Linked DNA regions of Homo sapiens. The protein of the gene in region 1 purifies or fractionates together with the protein of each later gene. This does not show direct contact. Each region holds a gene or a part of one and is shown on either strand. Other genes may lie near its edges.

Region 1 (3,500 bases):
GGGTGATAGAGTGAGACCTTGTCAATCAGTCAACCAGTAGTCGAATATTACCTAGCATTGCAAATGATGATATAGCTCTATAGTGATGAAAGATGTTCATAGAAAAGCAACATCATAAAGGTTTTATTGAAAACTCTCTATAAGAGTAAACTCCAGAATGTAAAGTGGTATTGGGGTGGTGAGGTTATGGGTCATTTTTGTTTTATATTTAGTAATTTATTTTCTAATTTTTCTTCTAAGATCATTGATTATTTGTATGGTTTTTAAAACCTCACCTATATAACCATTTCATTTAATGTTGAATTTTGAATTCAGTTCTCATTTTGTCATTATTTAGAAGATAAATTTTGTCCTTAAGGGAACAACTTTAAAATTTAGATTTGTTGTGTTTTTAGCTGTTGAAAGATTGCTGCCCTATTTAAAATATGATTTCCTTATTTATAGTGGGAAAGTAAAACTGTCCTGCGCAATGAGCCTTTGGTTTTAGAGGGAGGCTATGAAAACTGGCTCCTTTGTTATCCCCAGTATACAACAAATGCTAAGGTCACTCCACCCCCACGACGCCAGAATGAAGAGGTGTCTATCTCATGTATGTATGTGAAAATTTTTGTTTAAAATTGCTTTGGTAAAATATGGTTTAAAATTGTTTTCCCGGTAACATTCTTGGTTGTGTGTGTATTTGTCCTATTAGAGAGCAGTTTGTTTTCAGGCATAAAAATATAAGCCTGGAAGTTCACATTTTCTTTAAGACTGTTGTAATTGTTTTTTCACTTAGTTTACATTTAATTACTGCATTAACACGCATGAGAAATGTAAGTACTGTGTATGGGGTTTGCTATTCTAAAAAACATTTTTATTTTTGGAATTTTAGTGGATTTTACTTATCCCTCATTGGAAGAATCAATTCCTTCTAAACCTGCTGCCCAGACGCCACCTGCATCTATAGAAGTAGATGAAAATATAGAATTGATAAGTGGTCAAAATGAGAGAATGGGACCACTGAATATATCAACTCCAGTTGAACCAGTTGCTGCTTCTAAATCTGATGTTTCACCCATAATTCAGCCAGTGCCTAGTATAAAGAATGTTCCACAGGTATGTTCTTGATTTTAACATTATTCTCGCTTTTGTTTTAATATTAAATATATAGTATAGCTGGGCACAGTGCCTCACGCCTGTAATCCCAGCACTTTGGGAGGCTGAGAGGGGCAGATCACCTGAGGTCAGGAGTTTGAGACCAACCTGGCCAACATGGTGAAACCCCCCTCTCTACTAATAATACAAAAATTAGCTGGGCATGGTGGTGGGTGCCTATAAATCCAGCTGTTTGGGAGGCTGAGGCATGAGAATTGTCTGAACCCAGGAAGCGGAGGTTGCAGTGAGTCGAGATTGCACCACTGCACCCCAGCCTGGGTGACAGCAAGACTCTGTCTCAAAAAAAAAAAAAAGAATTAAATACATAGTATAGAAACGAAGTTTAATATATAACCTTTAACATCTTAGAAAAAAGTATCGATGAGAACAGTCTGTATGTTTTGATAAATTTTTTGTTTAAAAATTTTTCATCATAATTCAGCATTACCGCCACGCCTATATTAGAGTAGATAATTAAGGGGTTTCCAAGCCAGTTGGCGATCCATTTGCTACAAACAATGCCAATGAAAGATTGCATTATCACAGTGAATTAGAATAGCCCTTTTGGGATTTTTTGTATTATAATTTGACCCATATTATTTTCATAAATAGCTTGGCTTACATATGATAGGTATGTGATGTCAGTATTTTGGTTTTAAAACAGTGCTTTAGTTTCATTTCCTTAGAATTTGACACGCAAATAACAGGCATGTTTAACAATAATCATGTAAAAGTTTTTAAATAACCAAGACATTACAAATAAAAAAATTTTAGTTTTTATATCCTTCATTTGGCTTTATTTAAAGAAAGGTTAACTAATGTTCCCCCTCCATGCATTTCCCAATAACATTTTTTAGCATTCATTTTTAATTTTTTCCCCAGATATATTTAAAACAGTATTTCACATTTAAAGTGGATGACGTTTGATTTGTGGAGCAGGTATTGAATAGAAAATCTGGTAATTTTTTGTTATAAACTGAAGTGGTTCATTTCTTCATTTTTTTAAGGTCTTTTAGTATTGCAGAATAAATTGCAGACTAAATAGATGTGATTAAACAACTTTTCTTAAAGGGTGAATTTAGGAAAGTCTAAAAAGAGCTTCTCTATGTTATTGCATTTCCTTTCAACTTAATCTATTTAAACGCTAATCCTTTTGTGTCCCAACATAACTTTATGAGATACGTACAATTTTCAGACATATTTTGAAGATCTTCTATATAAAAAACAGCATGAGGGCTGGGTGCCATGGCTCGTGCCTGTAATCCCAACACTTTAGGAGGCGGAGGCAGGTGGGTCACCTGAGGTCAGGAGTTCCAGACCAGCCTGGTCAACATGGTGAAACCCCATCTCTACTGAAAATACCAAAATTAGCCAGGCGTGGTGGTGCGTGCCTGCAGTCCCAGCTACTCAGGAGGCTGAGGCAGGAGAATCACATGAACCCAGGAAGCAGAGTTGTAGTGAGCCGAGATCAGGCCACTGCACTCCAGCCTGGGTGAGAGTGAGACTCTGTCTCAAAAAAAAATAAAAATAAAAATAAGACAGCATGAAAGTTTGTATATACAAGAGATGGGTTCTTCTGATGTTTGGAAGGAGAGATCTGTATAAAATCAGCCACAGCATAAGGCAGAATATCATAATTGCTCTACAAGGCACTGGAGCACAGAGCAAGGAGAATATTCTAGCTGAGAAGATCAAGGACGTCTTCATGGAGGAGACAGTATTTTATCTGGGCTTTAAGAGTAGGATTGGAGGATAGAAGAAACAAGTAGAAAATTCTATGACCAAAGGCATAGGGCATGCTCTGGGGCCAGTGAACAGTTTTGGCATATGTGGGCGCTAGTCTCTGTTGGAGAGAGGAAGTTATGATAGTAGATAAGATTAGAAGGATGGACAAGAGTCATCAAGAGAGACTTGGATCAAATTTGAATTTTGTCCTGTAGGCACAAGGAACCATTAAAGAATTTTAAACTTGAGAGTAACATGATCATAACTATACTTTTAAAATTAGGGAAAAATAGATCAAGCCACCAAAATGTAAATGGAAACAACATTTATTTTTGTTTCTGTTCCACCTCTTATTGTTAACCTCATCCCCATAGTGGTTCTTCCTACTTTATTCTCAAATACATGCAAAAAAAAAGACAAAGGATTTTTTTTAAGAGGCAGAAAGAGAAGTGAACAGGAAAAAAATTATTTTTTCTACACTAACCTCGTTTTCTTTTTCTTTTCTTTTTTTTTTGAAAACGGTCTCACTCTCTCACCCAGGCTGGAGTGCAGTGGCGTGATCACAGCTCACTGCAGCCTCGACTTCCTGGGTTCAAGCAATCCTCCCACCTCAGCCTCCTGAGTAGCTGGGATTATAGGCA
Region 2 (3,500 bases), on another chromosome or scaffold:
TATCAAATTTCACTTTAGTTTTCAATAATCCTATTTACCTTTATTTAAGTCTCCATTCTCAACTCATTACATTTGTCTCTTCTTGAGAAAAATATTTAAAGTCGATAGTAAAATACTTAATTCTAATAACTATTAGTATATTAATGGCATGGAAAGACTTGACTGCAACTTCGGCACATGCTCTAGCAAAAGGCATAGTCAAATGTAATTTAAAATCAAAGCTTTATTTTTAAGAGATCTCATTTGAATTAAAGCGTTTAAGTTCTTCTGCTCTCAGGGAGCTGCAGATGGAGATGTAAGGAGTGACAAGGGGCTGTGGAGCCAAGGCTGACCTCAATGCCGGGTGCCCAGAGAGCTGCTGCTCCTGGTACTCAGCCCCTTGGATTTTTTAGACTGTTCCTTCTGCTTTCCTGACATTTCTCCCACTCCTAAATATTTTGAACAAGAAAGGGCCAGAAATGTCAAGAATAGTAACAAACACCAAAAAAACCTTACTTCCTAGGCCCCACCTCCAGAAATTCAGATTCATTCAGACTGGTGAAGACCAGGAATGTATGTTTTTAACAAATGCTGCCAAGTGACTGTGATGCAGTTCAGGAAAGGGGCCAGAGGAGCCTCAGGCTGGTCACACTTAGTGCCTGTAGCTTTGGGCATCCATCCAGTCTAGGGGGCCATGAAGAGCAATGGAAATGTAATCTAACATGGTGCATAGACGGCAAAAAGCGTGGTCCAGCTGCTAAGACTCTGCTCTTAACAAGAACTTTGCACAACTCCTCTTAGACAGACCTTGGTCTACATATAAAGCACCAACTCAGTATCCTAGAGGTGAAGGCATGAATATATGTGATATGTCCAGCTGCGTTGGTCTTCTCATGTATCAAATAAGAAATATACCTGTTTCCCCCTGGTGAATAAAAGTGCAGTTTATAGTCTGTAGATCAATGCCAGGGATTCTGTAAACATATAATTATGCCCTTTTATTATAAGAGGGTATTAACTTACCATACAAGACTTGGAAAAATGAAGATATTAAACTAGTTTGGGAAGGTGCAGCAGGGAGGAACAACCAGTTGCCAAAATTTGATTCATGGCAAAGTGAGCAACTACCAAAAAAAAAGGGAACAATTTTTGTTACCTGTTTTTGGGCAGCTGTCACATTAAACATTATTTGATGGTATCTATGATAGTGGAGATCGACAGGTAGCTACATGTTACAGGATACTCGGTGTCCAATTCGATAATTCGTATCTTATTAAGATGAAAGAGTATAACTCATTAATGCAAATGACAACTGCATGGGTGCTTAAAGAAAAGACAACTTTGCAATTAAGTTACTAGAGTATTAAAAAAGAACTAATGAAGAGCTGTCTGATGACTTAGTTCACATACTATGGAACTGTGGAGTGTTTTTGTAGAATCTCAAAATTATATGAAAGTCATGTATCATGAATTTTTTTATAGAATGTAAATAAAGACTATACTTTCAGGGATCATTTCTATAGTTTGTTACTAGAATGTAAATAAACTTAGTGATGAATTACTATAAGCATCTACACAATCATATTTTACTTTGAGTAATGATGAAATCCTAGCTAAAATAACTTCTGTTCTGCCTGGTCATATTTCTAGATATGATAGGTTTGTCTTCAGCTCTATCGTTGCATGAATGTGATGAGATGTATGCAAAGTTTATCTTTTTATACTTGATTGTTTTTGTTATTTTTCCCCTAGCAATTGAAATATGTGAGCAAAAGCAGATGACACTGGCAAAATACTGTAATTTTTTACAAACAGAATTAGGGCCAATTTTACACATCATCACATAGAAACTGTCTATTGATATAGCTCCAAAGATTCTGTTTGTCTGACCCTCATGGACTATACTTCTTCATTTCCAGTCTAGTATTTTCTGCTAAATTGTAGGGTTTTTTTTTCTTTCACATTCTCTCACCATCAAACTGTCCATCACGGCTAAATTACTCCCTCACTTCAAGCCTTTCCTTGGCTATTCAACTGTCTTTGTCAGCCTTTCAAGCCTTTGTTCTTATTTGACTGCTGTTTTAAATTGATGCTGTTTTCATACATCAATTTCACTTCCTAACTTGTCACTTCAGAATCTAAAATGACCCTTCCTAAGTAAAAGGGAAGCTCCCTTTCTTATGACCACTGGGGGAGTGTTATTTCTGTGGCCTTCACACCCACCTCCCACTCTTACTCAGCATTCTTTGGCACTAGTCCCTGGGCTGTCATCAAATGTACCCATGATACCGTGGTACCATCTAGCTGGTGCATAGTTTAGCTTTATGGCTCAGCCATCTCTTCTTTGTTCGGTCCAGGAAATCCCAGGTCAGGTGCCCATTTCATTTTTTCTTGTTCTCTATGGCCAGAAGATGCAGTCATTAGACAGAAATGTAATGTTGCTTACTGAGGAAGAAGACTCCCCTGGATTTCATTTACTTCCTACAAGGAGATACAGCTCAATAGTTCAACACCAGAAGAGAAACTCCTTTATATTCAGATAGTGAACATATTTCTAAGAAGCCTAAATAATCCTACCTTTAGATACTCTATTTAGAATTCATTACTAAGCTCCTGCAAAGTCTTAGCTTTGCTTGTTTTTAATTATTAAACAATCTTTGACTAATTTGTCCTTTTCTAAATCCTCCAATTACTACTATGTGCTGAAAATTAGCCTATATTCCCTATGCCTGCCACATCATGTTACTCACTTCTTCCCAGCTTTCAGCCCTGGCTAAGGTTGTGTATATCAAAGCCTGGAAACATTTCTAGCTTTAGCGCAGCCTTACTGTACTTTTAAAACCAGTGTGAGGCATTGAAAAGACTTGCCCGGGGATTGTGAATCTTCTTCTGGCTCTGTCTATAGCTAAATATTTCCTATACCCTGAGAACCTCTGAGAACCTCAATTTTTATCAGCTAAATGGATAATCGGCAATTAGAAGCATAAATTGAACTAGACAACTTTGGGGATTCTTGTTGGTTTCTACTGACTTACATCTTTTTAGTGAGACGGAGTCTCTCTTTGTCACCCAGGCTGGAGTGCAGTGGCGTGATCTCTGCAAGCTCCGCCTCCCGGGTTCAAGCGATTCTCTTGCCTTAGCCTCCCGAGTAGCTGGGACTACAGGCTCCCACCACCACACCTGGCTAATTTCTTGTATTTTTTGTAGAGACGGGGTTTCACCATGTTAGCCAGGATGGTCTGAATCTCCTGACCTCATGATCCACCCGCCTCCCAAAGTGCTTATAGGCGTGAGTGCATTATAGGCGTGAGCCACCACGCCTGGCCAGATCTTTTTCTTATCCTCAGTAATGGAGAAGGCGTGGACTTTAGATAGCTAGATATTGATAAGAAGTTAAATGGGATGTATAGCCTGAGGGTCCAAAGCCCAGTAAGGGAACTTTAAAGTATATAACAATGAAAGATGAAAACCAATCTTTTCTGGCTGGAGAAAACACCCTGAAGTAGGTTTTGTTTGTTTGT
Region 3 (2,488 bases), on another chromosome or scaffold:
GTGCCTTTATCATGGCTACGCAGTTAATAAGCAGAAGAGCTGGGACCTGCACCCAAGTCTCATGCCTCCCAAATCCGTCCTTGTTGAATAGCTTCCTACTGAAGCTGCTGCCACACAGGCCTGTGTGTTATGATGATGATGCACTTCTATATGCATTTAGCTCTTCATCAACCACAAAGCCCCTTCACACCCTGGTGTATCTGATTCAACTCTCCTTCCTGTGAGCTTGATTGGCACCATCCAGGCTGGCCACCATCACTCAAACTAGGGGCACTGTTCATAATCTTACCCACTGCTGCTGAAAATCAGAAAGCCTTGTCTTCATGGTTAAAACCATCAAAGAAAGAAAGCATTTAATGCAGATTTGAGGGAGCCCTTCTTGCCTTTCAGGGGTAGACTCTGTACACAGGATGACCCTCTCTGTCCCCAAGCAACCATCAGTCTCAAGGAATCCAACTCAGTGTCTGGAACTAACAGAGTTTTCTTTCTCCATAGGCTGTGTGAAGGTGTGGGCTCTGTGAATGTCTGTGAGTATCTGCCTGAAATTCTCCTGGAAAAATGGCTTTTTTGATAGAAAAGCTGAACTCATTGGCCTAACCCATGGAGCCTCGAGTGTTCCCCCAACTGTTTCACCCTCCCCTGGCTCCTCAGTGGGGGCCATGACAGGTGTTAGAGAAAGCTGAGCTGAGTGCTCTTCGCAAGTGTTGACAGTGAGCTATAGGCCATGGACCTGTGGCCTGGCAGCTTTGCTCCCCGGGGTCCAGGGGTCCTCACTTCCTTCCTGCCCCAGTTCCCTAGATGGGCTGTGCATCTCAGGGACAGGGCCTGCATTGTTGACCACCAATTCCTTGGAGAGGGAGGCAGCTCCTGCAGTGCCCTGGGGCCTGTTGTAGGGTGGGTGAGATTGCAGGGAGCTGCTCACCCCTCCATGTCTCCTCTCTCCACAGGTGTCAGCAGCTCCCGTGGTGGAGTCTCCTGTGGGGGCCTCTCCTACAGCACCACCCCAGGGCGCCAGATCACTTCTGGCCCCTCAGCCATAGGCGGCAGCATCACGGTGGTGGCCCCTGACTCCTGTGCCCCCTGCCAGCCTCGTTCCTCCAGCTTCAGCTGCGGGAGTAGCCGGTCGGTCCGCTTTGCCTAGTAGAGTCATGGAGCCAGGGCTTCCTGCCAAGCACCTGCCTGCCTGCATCACTGCACTGAATGGCATGTGAATGGAAAATGTGTGCTTGCTTCCAGAATCTTCTGGATGTTCCTACAGAGGGAAAGACCTACAGAGGGAAAGACCCTCGGGCCGCTCCCCTGCGCCTTTTCATGCTAGGGAGATGCATCCTAGTTGTCCTCCTGGCAGCTGTTTTCAGAGGCATTCCCAGCCCTTCACTTAACTCCTACTTAGCTCCAAAATACCTGTATCCAATTTGTATTATTCCCCCAGCTCTCAGGGACAAGACCAGTCCCCCAGCGTGGTGGTCAGCACGGAAGCTCCACCTTCTGGGTGGAGGCGCCATCCTAACCATCCAGCCAGGCCACCCACAACCCGAGAATCAGGGAGAAAGTCCCTCCCCAGCAGCCCCCTCCTCCTGGCTGGGAAGAATGGTCCCCCAGCAAGCACTTGCCTGTTCATTCCTGTTCATGTTTTGCTTCTCTCTCAGACTGCCTTCCTGCTTCTGGGCTAACCTGTTCCAGCCAGGCTCCTCATGTGACCTCGCAGTTGAGAAGCCCATTATCGTGGGGCATCCTTTTGCCTACAGCCCCTGGTTAGGGCACTTTGGACAGGTCTTGCTATTCAGTGAACCTTTGTACATTTCAAAGAAGACTCCATGGCTGCTCCAGATGCCCCCTTGCTGGGTGCAGGTGGGGACTGTCCAATGCAGAGCTGGCGGGACAGAGAGTTAAGCCACTTCCTGGGTCTCCTTCTTGTGACTGTCTATGGGTGCATTGCCTTCTGGGTTGTCTCGATCTGTGTTTCAATAAATGCCGCTGCAATGCAAGAGCGTGTGGTCTTGTGAGCAACTTCTCCACTCCCTTCTTGCCTCATCTCCAGATGACCAATCCCAGTCCAGCCCCATGCAGTGTTTCCCCAGTCACCCCCCAGAAACTCTGCTGCTTCCTGTCCACTTCCACAGTCTGATTCCACTCAGTCGCCCTCAGTCCCCTCAGGCCTGGACTACAGCCCAGCTCCCCACTAATGACCTCTTTCTCCCTGACCCACCCTGCGTACTCCCAGCAGCCAAAACTCCATCCCAAACTCACTGCTCTCACCCTCTCCTGCCTGGCTCAAGTCACTTCCTGGCACATGTGTGTGCTTCTTATGCCAAATGCAGGCTTCCTCTGTCACCTCCTTCCCCAGCTACTCCTCAGCCCTGTCCAACCCCTCCATGCGGTGCTCATCCTCCCAGTCATGGACTCCACCCCAAGGAGACAAGTCTACCCTCTGAGGCAGCCCAGAGACACTCTCTCCTACATACCCCTTGTGGACACATAGGCCATC
Region 4 (3,500 bases), on another chromosome or scaffold:
GGCAGCACTGGCCTTTCCCGATATTTGCTCGTCTTATGCAGTTTAGAAGTGACAGTCCATTTCGGGTTCTGAAATAATTTCGGTGGATCATGTCCAGGGTTTTTAAACTTCAACTGAAGTAAAGAACAGAGCCAGGCACGGTGGCCCATGCCTGTAGTCCCAGCTACTTGGGAGGCTAAGGAGGGAGGATCGCTTGAGCCCATGGGTTCAAGGCCAGCCTGGGCAACATACACAAGACCCCATGCCTGAAAAAAACAAAAACAAAAACAAAAAACCTGTAGCATGCACTGAGGTTGGGTGAGAGGGTCCCCTGACCTAACAAAGCAATGGATTCTCCCTGCACTCAACACTTGAGGCTCTAAGCAGAGACCACATCTGAGAAGAATTAGGGCCACTACATCAGAAAATGGAACCAGAAACCATAAAATAATGAAAACTAACACACTTCGAAGCACGTAGAAAAACAATCCACCATGCATGATCCACGCCTTCTTGAAGAGGGCTCTTTCACTTGGTCCCTGGTCAAGGACTGTAAGATGCAAAATGGTAGGGGAAGCTTCCAAGAACACACTGCTGGCTGTAGACAACAGCCAAGACCTCAACACGAAGGGCTCGCATCCCGAGGGGACACCTGCCCTACGACCTCCCCAAGAGGAAGCACCCCCACCCCACAACCTTCGCTCTCATGGCGTCTATTAATCATTTATCTCATAGCCTCCTTAAAGACCTCTCAGAGCACACACAGCTCTGGAGACTGGGAGGATGTCAGTACGGCCCCAGAGGGTTTGATATTGCCGAGCACGCAGCCTCTCACTTACTGGCAGACTTGGCAGGTGACGTCTGACTGCAACCCGCCTGTGAAGATCTGGTCTATGATGCAGTTGCAGTGGTTGGGGTTGTTGGCCTTCTTCCCATTGTCATCACCTGGAGACAGACCACGGCTCTGGGATTAGTGTCTCCCCAAATATGGGGAGTCTCTAAGGGAAGAGCAGTTCACCCTGCAGAAGCCTGGGGGAGCCAGGGCCAACGCTTTAAAAGGCCATGTGAGGACACTCCTCATTTTAGCAGAGGGTGTCCTTGTTATTTTAATATGACGAGAAATCACAGCACTTGGATTTTCAATGCTCCTTTTTCTCATTCCCTAACAAGAGCCCCACAGCTTCAGTCTTGCCAAGAAAACCCACCTAATGCCCAGTGACTGAGCAGAATAATCGATTCCCATTATCATATAAAGAATGACTGAATCAATATTGTTCCAGTGAGACAGCTGAACATATGGTGGGCCAGGTACACCCGGGGAAGCCCCAGCAACCTCCCTCCCTGAGTAGGTATCATGGTGCCCCAAGTTCAGAAAGTGACACCGCAGGACACAGGCTGTCCTCATCAGCTAGAGCCCCCAGGGGACAGCGTGTCTTCCAGTCAGTTGCATCTGGAAGTGCCACTCCCACCCTCTCTATTCAATACACACTTCATTCATATCCATGTGTGCAGATCTGTGAAAAAGAAACTTAAGTAGCAGAACTTAATTCGTGTGTGGAATACATATTCTACATAACTTCACTAGACAGTGGGGACAGGGCACGAGGACACCTGTATATACATCACAGTTCAAAGACGTTGAATCATGACAGAGGAATAGAGAAGGGCCACTAAGTCTTCTGAGAGCAGAAGGTTTAAGATTAGAGAGAAAAATGCTTCCCAGAGGGATCTCAAATTCATGGGACAAAATTCAGAGGACAAGAATATCCATACAGGAAGGCGCAAAGAATGATGAACAGAATGGCCAGGCGCGGTGGCTCACGCCTGTAATCCCAGCACTTTGGGAGGCCAAGGCGGGCGGATCACGAGGTTAGGAGACCGAGACCATCCTGGCTAACACGGTGAAACCCCGTCTCTACTAAAAATACAAAAAATTAGCTGGGCATGGTGGCGGGCGCCTGTAGTCCCAGCTACTCAGGAGGCTGAGGCAGAAGAATCACTTGAACCTGGGAGGCGGAGGTTGCAGTGAGCTGAGATCGCACCACTGCACTCCAGCCTGGCGACAGAGCGAGACTCTGACTCAAAAACAAAACAAAACAAAACAAAAGATGAACAGAAAGATGCCGTGAAGGCCACAAGGACAAAATGCACGTAACCAAGGCCATGTGGCCAGGCCACCTCGCTGAACAGCTCTGGCAACCAGGTTTCTAAACAGAAGAACCTTACATTTCTTTTCAGACATTTCCAAGGGAATTCTGTCAGAAGCACGTCAGAGGTCACATTTTGTCATGTGAACATTTAACAGCAATGCATTTTTGAACAAGTGATTTTTAGAACATCTTTCTGCTGCTTACAGAAGGCTCTTCGTTATTCTCACTAGGTGCTTGGGGTAACAGCATAGTCACTTCCACAGTGGCTCTTTCCTCTCTTATAAATCATACTAGGACATGAAATTCTACCTAAGCTACTAAGTAACTTTCCTTTGATTTCTAGGTAAGAATTAAAAGGATCACGTAGTTTTTCAGAGGAAAAAAAGTAAGTACCAAAAGAAAACAGAACCCAAAGTCACATTTGACCAAAACCAGCCATTTTAGCTCAACTGTGGGTTGTTTCTGGGCTGTGATCTCAGAACCCATAGGTTGTACGTAAGCGCCTAGGGCCCGGGTGCACAGCCTTGAGACGGATGAGAAGCGATGGGAAGGCCAGCCCACCAAGCTGTTCAACTCGGTGAACCGTCAGAACAGGACTCTGTTCTCTAAAAGACTCCAAGTTAAAATTAACTGATAGGATATCGGCTACAACTAGCTGTGCCAGCCCAGAGACCACAGGAAACTCACAAGCAGCCAGGTGCCCTGTGACCTGAGCGCATGGGTTCTCAGAGTATGGCATCTGAACCAGCGGCATCAACATCAGCTGGGAACTGATTAAGAGTGAAGAAGCCCCTGCCCCCCACAGATCTGCTGAATCAGAAACGCCAGCACGGGCTTTAGGAAGACCTGCAAGTGACCAGCCCACACTCATCTGAGAATCACCTCTCAGTCTCTCTGCCTGTATGGATAGACTTCAGCTGCAGGTCCCTCACACTGGGATCTCCACCATGAGGAGTGGGGAGGAGCCGATCTTGGCTCAAGTCATTCATTCCCAGCCTCCCACCTCCAGCGCTAAGAGCTGCCCCTGCCAACTACCAACACCACACAACTCTGAAAAATCATCAGGGTACCACCCTGGGGCCAGGCTGTGGGACTATGTTGGGGGAGATGGCCCAGGTCCAATGAGACCCCAAGAGAAGCTTTGCTCGTCCTGTGTCCCAGCTCTCTGGCTATTTCAGAGCAACCATCAGTCCTTTTGGAGAGTCCCCAATGGGAAGGAGACAGTTGGGTGATTAAGTTGTGTTTGGGGGATGTCCAGAAGCCTCAGGCCTGATAACCCACAGGGTCCCAGAAATGCCAGGGCAGGCAGGGGCCTCAAAGCACAGGCCCAAGAGGGCTCCAAGAGTTTGCTGTTCACTGTGATCGGTCACT

The links. Proteins that work in one complex are often made in the same cells at the same time.
Region 2: the proteins of USP8 (region 1) and GJA1 purify together in Homo sapiens (affinity purification with western blotting; one study listed by BioGRID). This does not show direct contact.
Region 3: the proteins of USP8 (region 1) and KRT85 purify together in Homo sapiens (affinity purification with mass spectrometry; one large-scale study listed by BioGRID and IntAct). This does not show direct contact.
Region 4: the proteins of USP8 (region 1) and USP22 purify together in Homo sapiens (affinity purification with mass spectrometry; one large-scale study listed by BioGRID and IntAct). This does not show direct contact.

The regions. Positions count from the first base shown.
Region 1 is NC_000015.10:50,476,405-50,479,904, forward strand, and holds part of USP8 (ubiquitin carboxyl-terminal hydrolase 8), read left to right. Parts: intron 1-444; coding exon 445-589; intron 590-871; coding exon 872-1,095; intron 1,096-3,500. UniProt on the Homo sapiens protein: Hydrolase that can remove conjugated ubiquitin from proteins and therefore plays an important regulatory role at the level of protein turnover by preventing degradation. Converts both 'Lys-48' an 'Lys-63'-linked ubiquitin chains.
Region 2 is NC_000006.12:121,442,146-121,445,645, forward strand, and holds part of GJA1 (gap junction alpha-1 protein), read left to right. Parts: intron 1-1,471; exon of another isoform or gene 1,472-1,548; intron 1,549-3,500. UniProt on the Homo sapiens protein: Gap junction protein that acts as a regulator of bladder capacity. A gap junction consists of a cluster of closely packed pairs of transmembrane channels, the connexons, through which materials of low MW diffuse from one cell to a neighboring cell.
Region 3 is NC_000012.12:52,359,506-52,361,993, reverse strand, and holds the end of KRT85 (keratin, type II cuticular Hb5), read left to right. Parts: intron 1-495; coding exon 496-527; intron 528-947; coding exon 948-1,141; 3' UTR 1,142-1,988; downstream 1,989-2,488.
Region 4 is NC_000017.11:21,012,012-21,015,511, forward strand, and holds part of USP22 (ubiquitin carboxyl-terminal hydrolase 22), read right to left. Parts: intron 925-3,500; coding exon 819-924; intron 1-818. UniProt on the Homo sapiens protein: Deubiquitinase that plays a role in several cellular processes including transcriptional regulation, cell cycle progression or innate immunity.